Homo sapiens: one gene and its partner. The protein of the gene in region 2 binds, or shares a complex with, the protein of the main gene of each other region. Each region holds a gene or a part of one and is shown on either strand. Other genes may lie near its edges.

What was found.
Region 1: KANSL3 (region 2) and KANSL1 share a complex: the UniProt entries of both Homo sapiens proteins name them as parts of the NSL complex.

Annotation. Positions count from the first base shown.
Region 1 is NC_000017.11:46,169,424-46,176,456, forward strand, and holds part of KANSL1 (KAT8 regulatory NSL complex subunit 1), read right to left. Parts: intron 2,810-7,033; 5' UTR 2,721-2,809; coding exon 1,432-2,720; intron 1-1,431. UniProt on the Homo sapiens protein: Non-catalytic component of the NSL histone acetyltransferase complex, a multiprotein complex that mediates histone H4 acetylation at 'Lys-5'- and 'Lys-8' (H4K5ac and H4K8ac) at transcription start sites and promotes transcription initiation.
Region 2 is NC_000002.12:96,628,307-96,635,339, forward strand, and holds part of KANSL3 (KAT8 regulatory NSL complex subunit 3), read right to left. Parts: intron 3,238-7,033; exon of another isoform or gene 3,177-3,237; coding exon 3,006-3,176; intron 1-3,005. UniProt on the Homo sapiens protein: Non-catalytic component of the NSL histone acetyltransferase complex, a multiprotein complex that mediates histone H4 acetylation at 'Lys-5'- and 'Lys-8' (H4K5ac and H4K8ac) at transcription start sites and promotes transcription initiation.

The sequences.
Region 1 (7,033 bases), on a different chromosome or scaffold from region 2:
ACAATATCCATGCAGATAATATAAACAAAATTGGGAAACCAGAAAATTTACTTTTAAAAATCATAGCTGTCTCAACAACCAAACACTCCAGTGAAAATCTTCATCACCTTTTAATACAGTCAAGGAAACACCAATTCTTCCCACATATTCATCTTTTTCAGCCTTCTCTAGTAAGCCAGCCTCTAGCAAAGAGAAAATGAAAGATCTGCTAGTCAATTATCCTGCCCCTCTTTTCCAACTCCTCATGCTCTCTCTCAAATCTGATATTCCTAAGGAGATAAATGCACTTATTTAACATGTATCTTTAAGTATGTTATAATATAGTACTGCTTTATTTAATTAAGTACATAGATGCTGAATTGGGAGTGACAGGAATGAAACGTCTCTGTCTCCACCATGCCAATTTGGAGTGCCACCCATAAAAAGCTTATGTAAAATTTTCTCAAACCAACAGATTTAGAAAAACCAGTAAGATGAGGTGGGCGGATCACGAGGTCAGGAGTTTGAGGCCAGCCTGGTCGACACGGTGAAACTCAGTCTCTACTTAAGAAAAGAAAAAAGAAAAAAATTAGCCTGACTTGGTGGCGGGTACCTGTAATCCCAGCTACTTAGGGAGGCTGAGGCCCGAGAATCACCTGAACCCAGGAGCCAGAGGCTTCAGTGAGCTGAGATCGCACTACTGCACTCCTGCACTCCAGCCTGGGCGACAGAGCGGAACTGTCTCAAAACAAAACAAAACAAAAAACAACAAAAAAAACAACCCAGTAAGAATTTATTCCAAATACATCAATACATTTAACTCAGCTTAACAAATCTGCTTAAAATGGGCTTTTTTTTTTTTTTAATAGGAAGAGAGTCAGGTTGTGAAACTAGACTGTGCTTGGAGGCGATGTATTAAATATTCTGAAGCATTTTCTAATTGTCAGTCCTTAAAATGTAAGAAAATCTCAAGTGTTAAAATTGAAGACTGGGTGTGCTCTCTGCTGAAAGTTCAATCAAAAGCAACTGTAATTTCCTACAAAGGTAACTAGGTCAACTCAGCATTTGTCCCTGCTTACTGGAAACAACAAAATCTCAACAATCAGGCCATTAACTTATCATGTCCTATATATAGTTTCAAAAGAAATCTAAATTCACTCTTAAAGAGGTACTAGTACAATTTTACACATAAGATGTCTCCTAGTTATTTTTCTTAGACTTCAAAAGGAAATTACCACCATTTAGACTACAACAATACAACCCTACAGCAAAAGTATCTTCCCCTTCTTCACTAGCATGTATATGCACTCATCTACCCAACATCAGGGAAAAAACAAACAGAACCTAGACACCTATGTACAAAGAATCACATTCTCTCCATAATGGCGATTCATTCATTCTTCCTTGTGCCAACATTTCTCAAGAATGCTATCATGCATGAGGTCTACTCACAGGGGTACATGACGCTGCTCGGGATCAGCTCTGGTCAGTTCTTCCTCTTCAATATCAGACTCCCCTCCTGAACTACTGTCAGTGACATCTGAATCAAATGCCTGTTCACTGCACCTCAAGTTGGCTATGCCACTAGCTGTAAATCTCTCCAATTCTTCTGAAATTGAATTGCTTTTCAGAAAGTTGCTAAGTCCCTCTGAAGTGGTGGTCTCACTGGCAGCTTTTCTCAAGGCAGCTTCAGCCTTTCGAGTCAGCATCAACTGGCTCCGTGGTCTCAAGGATTCCAAGTTTGGCAGTTTGCTCAAAGTCTTCTCCAAAAATCCACCCAGCTGATGTTGTATATGCCTCTCAACCTGCTTGGCTTGCACAACCTGTAAGCGCTTTTGTAATCTGCGGGCACGGCTCTCAATGTCAGCCTGTCGCCGCAGTAAAGCTGTTATCCTTGTGTCAGAATCTAAAGCACTGAAAAGAATGGAAGACAGGGGAGACTTTTTACCCTCCAATTTGACACCCCCCAAGTTAGAGCTGGAGTCTGTACCAGGTGATAATCTACTGCTTCCTTGAAGTGCCGGCTGTTCCATGGAATTGACAGAGGATTTGTTTGCAGTGCTATTATTGCTATACAAAGTTGTGTGTTCTACATCAAGGCTTCTATGTGGAAGAGTGCAATTGGTCATACCCCCCTTCAAGTCCCCAGATTCAGATCCTCCCATTTCACCCCCATGAAGAGCAGATGAAGTGAGAGCCCGTTTTCCCCCATTGAGGGAAGTGGAATTGTCATGATCAGAATGTGTTGAACTTTTAGTCAATTTCTTAGCCAACCCATTTACAGGTGCTTGTGGCAGAGCTGTCTGACCACTCGTATTCATGGTTCTAAGATTTTCTAAGGAAAACTCCAAAACTGGCTGTCTCCCCAACAGCTCAGCTCGGAGTTCATAGGACTGAGATAAGAGAGGATGAGATTTAAGGACTGTCTGCTTGCTGAAGACCCCTTGCAACTTCAAAGACTCCTTTGAGGGAACAGATGTTACATCAGAGCAGAGATAAGATGCCACCAGTGGTTGCAGCTTTCCCAAGTCTTCCTTGGTAGGATTATTTCGGAAATCTAGGCTGGGATCCTCTGCAGCAATGGCTTTTCTTTTGGTTCCGTTGGCAGCAATAAGGATGTTGGCGTTGCCGTTATTTTCGGCACTGCCAGGGGACAAGGTAGAGGATGGGGGAGCCAGTTTGAACCGGATATGGTGTGCTTCAGCTGCTGCGTCAGTGAGAGCGGGCGCCATCGCAGCCATTCAGCACAGAGAGACAGGAAGTCCAGCCTCTCCCGATGCCGAGGCCGAGGCCAGCTCCACGGCCCCTTACTGCCTCCCCAGAGAACAGACTAGAAGAGAAAGGAGAAAAGAATATTAGAAATACAAGCACTTTTAAAAACATGTATATTTTTAACAAAAGCACTACTTGAGGCTGTTGTCTAAACTGCCTCCAGAAAGAAAACACTCTGGAGCTAACTGTACCACAGTTATTCTAGAGACCCAAATATCTTTCATCTGGGAGAAAGGGGGAGGCAAAATCCCTGCACAAGGGAAGGAAGAATTGCACCCTTCTTGTCATTTGTTACCACAGATTGAAAGGTGCCAAAACACAAGTTCGATTCAGAGAAAATCACAGATTGTTAAAATTAAATCATCTCCATTAAAAAAAAATCTCTTTAAGCTTGTTGAAATAAATGGATTTAAAGCAAGACACATCAAACTAAGCAATAATTAAACAGAAAAAAATTAGTAAGGAATTCCCGTGTTCACTAAAAAAAGTATGCCAAATATCACAGGTCTGTGCATTTTTCTGGCCAGGGAATCCAGTTTTCATCAGCTTCTCACTTCTCTAGAAGTATAGATTATACTACAAAGCTAACTGTACCACATCTGTAATACCAACTTGTTTCATCAGTTTTCTTTTCTTTCAGATCAAAGTGGTCATCAATATCTTCTCTACTGGCTTCTTCCTCTCAGCCTAGGAATTTACTCAAGTATCTTCTGCCCTCAGTACAGCCTCTCTCTCATACTTAATTGCCCAAATATCTCTCTTTCCCTTTACCCCAAAACTTCTCTAAGAATAGTATAAATAACTGTCTCTGCACTCTTCACTCTTCCATAATCTGGATTTCACCCCCTACTGCTCTGGCAAAGGTGACCAGTAATCTTATTATCAAATCCAATGGTCAAACCTCAGTCCCCATTCTATCTGACTTCTCTGAAGCACTGGACAATACCGACCTTCTTCTAATTCTTTCCTGATGTCCTTGTACTATCATCCTCTTCTCTTCCTCCTGGACCCTTAAATGCTGGTGCTGCACAAGGTCCCTTCTGCCCTCTTCTCTCTCAACAACCACTAGTATGGTGAGGTTTCTTAACCATAAGAAAAACTTCTGAGCTGCACTAATCAAGATTCCTATAACCTCTATGTTCCTCAAGCCCCCTGAAGCTCAGAATTCACTTTCTCCTTCCAGCACACTATTCCGCATCCTGTTTCATTACCTTAAGTAATGACACTGCTTTTATTTAGTAACCAAGCTAAAAATCTCAGTCATTTGCCTCTGTTTGATCCCCCTTGATCTATGTGGTCTGGGAGCCAAAGGAAACATACGTAAAGAACTAAGCCAGTTGTTCTTTAAAGTGTGGTCTCTGGACTTCTGGGGATCTCACAGGCTATTTTGGAGGTTCGTGAAATCAAAGGTATTTTCATAGCAATACTAGAATATTATCTGCCTTTTACACTGTGTTGACATTTGCAATCAGAGTACAAAAACAAAGGTGAACAAAACTGCTGGTACATTATTAGCACAAATCAAGGAAGAGGCACCAAACTATACTAATAGTCATTATACTCTCCACTCAGTTTTTCTTTTTTTAAGGGAGTTCCACTTAAGATGTCCTTGATGAACAGCAAAAATTATGAATTATCTTGAGCCTTTAGTGCATTTTTTAAAAATATTCTTTGTGATGAAAGGGAAAGTATGCATAAAGCACTCTGCTGCTTTATGAATTCTCAGGAAAAAGCACAGTACAACTGAGTTGCAAAATGAACTAGAGCTTTGTTCATGGAACACGATTTTTACTTGGCAGAACTACTGACAAACATTATTTGAAACCTGCTTCACTAGCAGACATTTCCTTGCAAATGAACAAAGTGAACCTGTCACTTCAAGGAAGACCACTGACGATATTTGCTGCCAATAATAAAATCTGAATTTTTTAGGCAAAGATTAGTGTTTTTGAAAACTTGTATCAACAATCATGAACTTAAACATTTTCCCAATATTTTATTTGGTGGGTGTGGATGTGTGTGTGTGTGTTTAACAGAGTCTTGCTCTGTCGCCACGCTGGAGTGCAGTGGTATGATCTCAGCTCACTGTAACCTCTGCCTCCTGGGTTCAAGTGATTCTCCTGCCTCAGCCTCCCGTGTAGCTGGGACTACAGGCACGTGCCACCACGCCTGGCTAATTTTTGTATTTTTAGTAGAGACAGGGTTTCACCATGTTGGCCAGGATGGTCACAATCTCCTGACCTCATGATCCGCCCACCTCGGCCTTCCAAAGTGCTGGGATTACAGGCCTAAGCTGCCACATTCGGACTTTCTGAATATTTTAAAAGCCATTTCTGATTTAACAGACTTGTGACGATATTAATGAACGTGAATTTTTGATTGCATATAATGTAATGTGTAACATTTGGAAGATCTGCATAACCCAGTGAACGATAAAATGTCCAGTGAATGTCAGGAAATCATGCATGGGTAAAAAGTTTAAGTGCAAGACAAATCATTTATTTGTTGCTGTTATTTTGAAACAGGGTCTAGCTCTGTCACCCAAGCTAGAGTGCAGCGGCACAATCATGGCTCACTGAAGCCTCAACCTCCTGGGCTCAAGTGATCCTCCTGCATCAGCCTCCTAGTAGCTGGGACTATAGGTGTGTGCCACCATGCCCGGCTAATTTTTTGAATTTTTGTAGAGATGGAATTTCATTTTGTTGCCCAGGCTGCTATCAAACTCCCAGCTTCAGCCTTCCAAACTCCTGGGATTATAGGCATAAGCCGCCATGCCCAGCCTGAATTACTTATTAAATATTTTTTAAATTTCTCAAAGTTTATAAGAAAAACAATTTATTTGCTGTTCTCAACAAATTTTAAGAGTTAAAAAAGGGTCCTGAGACCAAAATGCTTGTGAAATCACTGGACTAAGCACCCCCCTCCCTGCCCCAAATGAGGGCAATCTCCAATTTAATCAAAAATGCTTATCTTTGGAGCAATACCAACACAGGATGGTAGGCCCTACAGGACCACAGTAAGCTTCTTTATAGTATGACAATTTGAATCATTAACATAAAAATACTCAAATAAATGACTGAGAAAACATTATTCATAAAAGCACCAATATACATATGGGTCGAATCTGTCTTATTGCTGTGTGTGTGTGTGTGTGTGTGTGTGTGTGTGTGTGTGTGTGTGTGTGTGTGTTTCTGAGATGTAGTCTCGCTCTGTCGCCCAGGCTGGAGTGCAGTGGCGTGATCTCGGCTCACTGCAACCTCCGCCTCCTGTGTTGGAGTGATTCTCCTGCTTCAGCCTCCCGAGTAGCTGGGACTTCAGGCATGTGTCACCATGCCCAGATAATTTTTGTATTTTTAATGGAGATGGAGTTTCACCACGTTGGCCAAGCTGGTCTCAAACTCCTGACCTCAGGTGATCCGCTTGCCTCAGCATCCCAAAGTGCTAGGATTACAGGTGTGATCCACTGTGCCTGGCCTCATATAATTATTAACACCAAAAGTTTCTTGTTCCAGGGTTGTATTTTAACCAACACTCTTTATGAACTAGATTTTCAGGGCTTATGTAGTTTTCTCCTGTGGGCTTTCTGGCATATGGCATTCTGTGTGGCACAAATTATTCTATGTTGTCTTTTCCCATTTCTAACTTTAAATATAATACTAATTACTAATATATTATTAAACATTGTGTTACAGACCAGTTGACAGTACTAATTCCTGTTATTAAACATTGTGTTATAGACCAGTTGACAGCTGGACCAATATAGTTGTTAAAAATATTTTGAGTCACTTTTATAATATGCAAAGGGTTTTTCCCATGGACAAACGAAAATCACTACCAGATAATTCCCATCAATTCAATCTCCTCCCCTTTTGAATGTCAATATGTAGTTGATATGAGCAATGCAAGGAGGCATATTATCAGTGCCAGATGATTAATACAACATGTGAAGAGTAATTGTACCCTACTGCCTGACAGCACTACAGTAAGACTTAGCAAGGGCAGGAAACAGCTTCCCTCTGAGGACCCAAGCAAGGGCACAAATATGCTTTATGACTTACATAAAACTTAGGAAAACCCAGGCTCACTCCAGCACAAATGAAAAAGAGGGTCATAATTAACATCACATCACAGAAGGTGCTTAAGTAGTAAACTTCTCAAAGTTATTCTGAGATTATTCAATTCTTTAAAGCTTACAACTTTAAGAAAAAATGCCGGCTTAAATCCCATCTACTCCAGCTGGGCACAGTGGCTCACGCCTGTAATCCCAGCATTTTGGGAGGCC
Region 2 (7,033 bases):
CAGGCCACCCCAGTGTCTCTTATGCTTTGCAGTTATATCTCTCCTTATAAATTAAGAAACTCAGCCAAGTGCAGTGGCTCACACCTATAATCCTAGCACTTTGGGAGGCAAAGGTGGGCAGACCACTTGAGCCAGGAGTTTGAGACCAGCCTAGGCAACATGGTGAAACCCAATCTCTACAAAAACTACAAAAATTAAGAAATGGTGACGTACTCCTGTAGTCCCAGCTACTTGGGAGGTTAAGGTTCCCACCCGGGAGAATCACCTGAGTCCTGGAGGTCAAGGCTTGTAGTGAGCTGAGATCGTGCCACTGCACTGCAGTCTGGGTGACAGAGTGAGACCCTGTCTCAAAAAAAAGAAAAAAGAAACAAACTGGTATTTATAGTATTATTAAGTCTCTAATGACTTTGATAAGTATGAATTGTCCACAAAAACCTCTTAATCATAACCATGGATAAACTGACAAAAAAAAAAAAAATCACACAGTTCTCCTATGTACTTTCTGAAATTGCAAAGGACAAGGTAGTAGAAAATACCACAAAGGGATACATAACCATACCAGGCCACCTTGTTCAGCCACCACTAACTGGTCTTAATCTCTTCTTACTGCCCTTAATTAAGGCAGAGGGTATGGTAGTTGAGAACACTGGGTTCTGGAGTCAGGCTGCTTGGTTTGAACAAAATCCTTCTCCATCACTTCCTAATTAAGGTTTCTTAAACACCCTGAGCTCAGTTTCTTCATCCTGTTGAGCAGAGATGAAGGGGGGATATACCTCCAAGAGTCATTGGGAGGATTAAGAGACAATGCATTTGAAGAGACATTGATACAATGTCTGGCACCTAGAAAGCACTCAACAAACGGTAGCTCCTTTTTGTTATTACCATCGTCGTTATTTTTTATTATTAACTGTAAAAATAGTGATAAATCCTTTTGCTGAATATACTGACTCTAGCAATATTCCAGTAGTTGATCTTCATTCGTAGCAGTTTTCTTCTTTATCTGAAGCTCAAAAGAGCTTTTTTTTCTTTTTTTGAGATGGTGTTTCACTCTTGGTGCCCAGACTGGAGTGCAATGGCACGATCTCGGCTCACCACAACCTCCGCCTCCCAGGTTCAAGTGATTCTCCTGCCTCAGCCTCCCGAGTAGCTGGGATTACAGGCATGCGCCACCACACCCAGCTAATTTTGTATTTTTAGCAGAGACAGAGTTTCTCCATGTTGGTCAGGCTGGTCTTGAACTCCCGACCTCAGGTGATCCACCCGCCTCAACCTCCCAAAGTACTGGGATTACAGGCGTGAGAAAAGAGCTTCTTAAGGCACTAAATTAATTCCAATGCAAGACCCCAACCAACTTCTTCACAAGCTTTTTCAACCAAGGTGCAGAACTGCTCCTCCCTCAACAGCTGCTGTTTTGATCACACAAGCACACCTGTTCAATCTCATTCCCAACTTCCAACCAGCTTCAGAAGTCATGTCAATCACCTCAAACTTTCTACCCCTCTTTCTCTCTATTATAAAATAAGGGTTCTCCAAAATTATGGAAAGTTACCACCTACCAACTCCTGATATAAGAAGTAACATTTCCTTATATATATAGTAGATATATGGATACACAGACAAAAAGCCATCAACAAAATATAAGTTGAAACCACAATGAGATGCCACTTTACACGCAGTAGAATGGTTATAATTTTTTTAAAAAAGAAGAAAATCAGTAAGTGTTGGCAAGGATATGGAGAAACTAGAACTCTCATACACTGCTGGTAGGAATGTAAAATGGTACAGCCACTTTGGAAAACAGTCTGGCAATTCCTCAAAGGTTAAATACAGAGTTATCATATGACCCAACAAGTCCACTCCCAGGTATATAACTAAGAGAATTAAAAACTTAGATCCACACAAAAACTTGTATGCAAATGTTCATAATAGCATTATTCACAATTGCCAAAAAATGAAAACAATCTAAATATCTATCAACTGATTAATGAATAAATAAAATGTGGGCTATCCATACAATGTAATGTCATTTGGCAATAAAAAGCATGAAGTGCTGATACACGCAACCACATGGATAAACCTTGAAAACATCATGCTGGGTGAAAGAAGCCAGTAGGAAAAGACCACATATTGCATGATTCCATTTATATGAAATGTCCAGAATAGGCAAATCTATAAAGACAAAAGTCAATTAGTGCTTCCTAGGGACCAGAGAAGCTGGGAGGAAACGGGAAGTAACTGTTTATGGGTAAGAGGTTTCTTTTTAGGATGATGAAAATGTTTATCAAATTGATAGTGGTGATGAATATACAACTCTGACTATACTAAAAACCAATGACTGTACATATTAAATAGCTGAATTGTATGGTATGTAAATAATATCCCCAAAAAGCTGTTATGTAATTAGGTAAATGTTTACCAAATGAACAGGGACAAATAACCAGGAGAGGAGTGCTGAGTCCCCTGGGGGCAGTAGAAAGCTTGGGAACAAAACTAGCCAGTATACTCGTGAAAATAGGCTTCAGTGTGCCCTCCATAGCCTGCAAATCTATTTTTAAAAGCCACTCAAACATCTGTTAGCTTTTCATGTGACTTCACAACTTCCATCATCCTAGTTATAAACCATTTAAACACAATATCTTACAAATGTACATTTCATTTTTTTGCAGTTTGGGTAACCCCTATATCATAACTTATACAACAGAAGCTACTACAGAGCTAGTCATATGTATCAAATTTAATTCACTTATTTATTCAACAAACATTATATGCCTACTGTGTGCCAGACAACGTCCTAGTGTGAAGTATGCAAAGATGGCTGAGATGTAAGCCCTACTCTCAAGGAGCTCACACACAGCATGGTGAACTGAGAGTTATAATGTGAGACTTTGGAGAACACTCTGACTTGTGTTGCTGCAAATGAAATAAGGTCCTAATAAGTGTTATTTCAATGAAGATGATACAAAATAATTACAGGGCAGTGATCATCCTCCTGATGAGCAGCCTACCTGTTGACATGCTCCTCCCAGTCCTCTGGTGGAGGAGGGGCATCTGCATCAGTCCTGGCAAAGATGACATGCCGTTCACACTCATTCATCACGCTGCGTGCCTTCTGATTGTCATAGAGTGGCATAGGCGTTGATGTGACCGTCTCCACATCTATTGGGACGTCTGATTCACTGTAAACAGGTGAGGAAATAGGACCGGGCCACACATACTTCACAGGTATTTAACAATCATCTGGTTGACAAAAAATGTATCTTTAATACAGTCAGCTTTAAATTACGCATAAGCACATTATATTCACAAGAAAATTTTGATCCAAAGTCATCTTTCCCACACTTGTCTAGATCTCTGCCCTCTCAGACATGATGGTATGTACTGGAAGAACACAAAGTCATTTTTTCAATGAGTCTATATAAAAAATGATAAACATCTATTTTTTTTTTAAGATAAATATGGGCCAGGTGCACTGGCTCACACCTGTAATACCACCACTTTGGGAAGCCGAGGCAGGTGGATTGCTTGAACTCAGGAGTTCAAGACCAGCCTGGGCAACATGAGGAAACCCTGTCTCTACCAAAAATACAAAAATTAGCTGGGCATGTGGCACACACCTGTGATCCCAGCTACTAAGGAGGCTAAGGTGGGAGGACTGCTGGAACCCGGGAAGTCAAGGCTGCAGTGAGCCATGATTGCATCACTGCACTCCAGCCTGGGTGACAGAGCAAGACCTGGTCTCAAAAATAAATAAATAAATGACAAATACAGCCAGACACAGTGATTCACACCTGTAATCCCAGCACTTGGGAGGCTGAAGCAGGAGGATCACTTAAGCCCAGGAGTGAGCTGGTCTCAAAAAATAAATAAATAAATGACAAATATAGCCAGGCACAGTGATTCATACTTGTAATCCCAGTACTTTGGAAGGCTGAAGGAGGATTGTTTAAGCCCAGAAGTTCAAGACCAGTTTGGCAATATGGCAAAACCCCGTCTCTAAAACAAACACAAAAATTAGCCAGGCATGGTGGTATGCGCCTGCAGTCCCAGAAACTGAAGTGGGAGGATGGCTTGCTTGAGCCCAGGAGGTTGAGGCTACAGTCAGCTCTGATCATGCCACTGCACTCCAGTCTGGGTGACACGGCAAGACCCAGTCTCAAAAAAAAGGACAATATATTCCATAAGCAAGTTGATTTGGCTCAAGCTAATATTTTTAAAAGATCACTTTCAATTTTTGTTTAGTAGGCTACAGCTCAGGAGTGGAATTTAGAAGACCAGCTAGGCAGCCACTGCAGTTGACTGAGATGGGCCAGAAATCATGAGAGCTCGTTTAGGGACAAGAACAGTACAAATGGAGAAAAGTGGCTAACAAGTTGATTGCCTAGATACTGTTCAATACAGTAGGTATAAGCCACACACGACTACTTAAATTGAGGCAGGTGGATCACGAGGTCAGATCGAGACTATCCTGGCTAACATGGAGAAACCCCGTCTCTACTAAAAATACAAAAATTTAGCCAGCCATGGTAGCAGGCATCTGTAGTCCCAGCTACTCAGGACACTGAGGAAGGAGAACGGTGTGAACCCAGGAGGCGGAGCTTGCAGTGAGCCGAGATTGCGCCACTGCACTCCAGACTGGGAGACAGAGCGAGACTCCATCTCAAAAAAAAAAAAAAAAAAAAAATTACTGGGCACAAGGGCTCACAAGGGCTCAGGCTTGTAATCCCAGCACTTTGGGAGGCCAAGGTGGGCAGAACACTTGAGCCCACAAGTTCAACAGTGTGGGCAACATGGTGAAACCCCGTCTCTACTGAAAATACAGAAATTAGCTTGTGGTCCCAGCTACATGGGAGGCTGAGGTGGGAGATCAACTGAGCCTGGGAGGCGGACGTTGCAGTGAGCCAAAATTGCACCACTGTACTTCAGTCTGGGTGACAGAGACCTCGGCCCAAAAAAAAAAAATTTAAATAGAATTAAATATTCAGGCTGGGCGTAGTGGCTCGCGCCTGTAAACCCAACATTTTGGGAGGCCAAGGCGGGTGGATCACCTTAGGTCACGAGTTCGAGACCAGCTTGGCCAACATGGTAAAACCCCATCTCTACTTAAAAAAAACAAAAATTAGGGTGTGGTGGCACGTGCCTGTAGTCCCAGCTACTCAGGAGGCTGAGGCAGGAGAATGGCGTGAACCCGGGAGACGGAGGTTGCAGTGAGCCGAGATCACACCACTGCACCCCAGCCTGGGCAACAGAGCGAGACTCTGTCTCAAAAAAAAAAAAAAAGGCCGGACATGGTGGCTCATGCCGGTAATCCCAGCACTCTGGGAGGCAGAGGCATGCGGATTGCCTGAGCTCAGGAGTTTGCAACCAGCCTGGGCAACATGGTGAAACCTCGTCTCTACTAAACACAAAAAATTAGCTGGGTGTGGCAGCGTGCACCTATAGTCCCAGCTACTTGGGAGACTGCAGCAGGAGAATTGCTTGAATCCGGGAGGCGGAGGTTACCATGAGCCAAGATTGCACCACTGCACTCCAGCCTGGGTGACAGAGCAAGACTCCGTCTCAAAAAAATAAAAAAATAAAAAATTCAGTTCCGTAGTGACGTTAGCCACATTTCAAGCATTCAACAGATACACGTGGCGGCAGTTACCACACTGGACATCCCAGGTATAGAACATTCCTATTATTACAGAGAGTTCTGTTAAACAGTGCTGGTCTAGAGTTTTAAATTCATACAAACTTTCCCTTTCATTAGCAAGTCAACTGGTAGTTATTTAATATATACTGTAAAGTCTATGATTTCCTTTCTGTATGATTATCTAAGACAGATGACCTGGAATGCACATACCTTAGCTACTTAGCTCATTTTGTACAGAGCCTAGAACAGAAACAAATATAAATGAACATCTAAAGGTCTTTCATATTTTAAAATGAGATCTAGCTGGGCATAGTGGCTCACGCCTGTAATCCCAGCACTTTGGGAGGCCGAGGCAGGTGGATTGCTTAAAGTCATGAGTTCAAGACGAGCCTGACCAACATGGTGAAACTCCGTCTCTACTAAAAATATTAGCCAGGCATGGTGGCGGGTGCCTATAATCCCAGCTACTTGGGAGGCTGAGGCAGGAGAATTGCTTGAACCCAGGAGGCAGAGGTTGCAGTGAGCCAAGATTGCGCCATTGCGCTCCAGCCTGGGCAACAGAGACTCCGTCTCAAAAAAAAAAAAAAAGAAAGTAAGAAACAAATCCTAGTGCCCCAAGGGTCCTTCCCCACTTTATGATACATTGCACCAACTTTGTCACCCCAAATACTATGCCAAACAAACTGGTCTAGTGGCTACCTGCCAAACTTTATGTTAACTTTTTGACTTCAGTGACCTTACTGCATCCATTTCCAATGACTGAAATAATTACATCATTATGAAATGAAATGAAATCATGTGCAGCTAGATTTGGTGGTGGGCAAAAGAGCTGATTATCTTCTCCAGGCCAGACATTGAGCTAGTACTTGGATATGTGTAGCTAAAAGAGAACTCTTGATTTCACCATCACAAACCTATCCTCCTCCAGTCTTCCCTAACTCATGGCACCACCCAACTGCTCAAGCCAGAAATCTGTCATCCTAATTTTACCTTTCCCTTTAACCCTGGTTCTTGCTCTTCCTTCCAATTCACCATAGCAGATCCTATTAACCTATTCACTCTACCTATGAAATACATCTCAAAGTCATCTATATTTCTCCATTTGTACTGTTCCTGCCCTATACAAGATATCACGATTTCTGGCCCATCTCAGTCCATTGCAGTGGCAGCCTGCAGCTGGTCTTGTAAGTTCTACTCCTGCACTATAATATACTCAACAAAAAATCCAAAATGATCTTTTTAAAGTATAAATTGAATCTCTAGTTTAAGATCCTTCAGTGACTTCTTACCACTCTTAGAATCAAATTCCTTCACGAGGTAACCCTTGCCAACTTCTCCCTACCTCCCACTTATACCCCTACTGCTATTATATTCTGGCCACACTGGCCTAAAAGAGTTCTT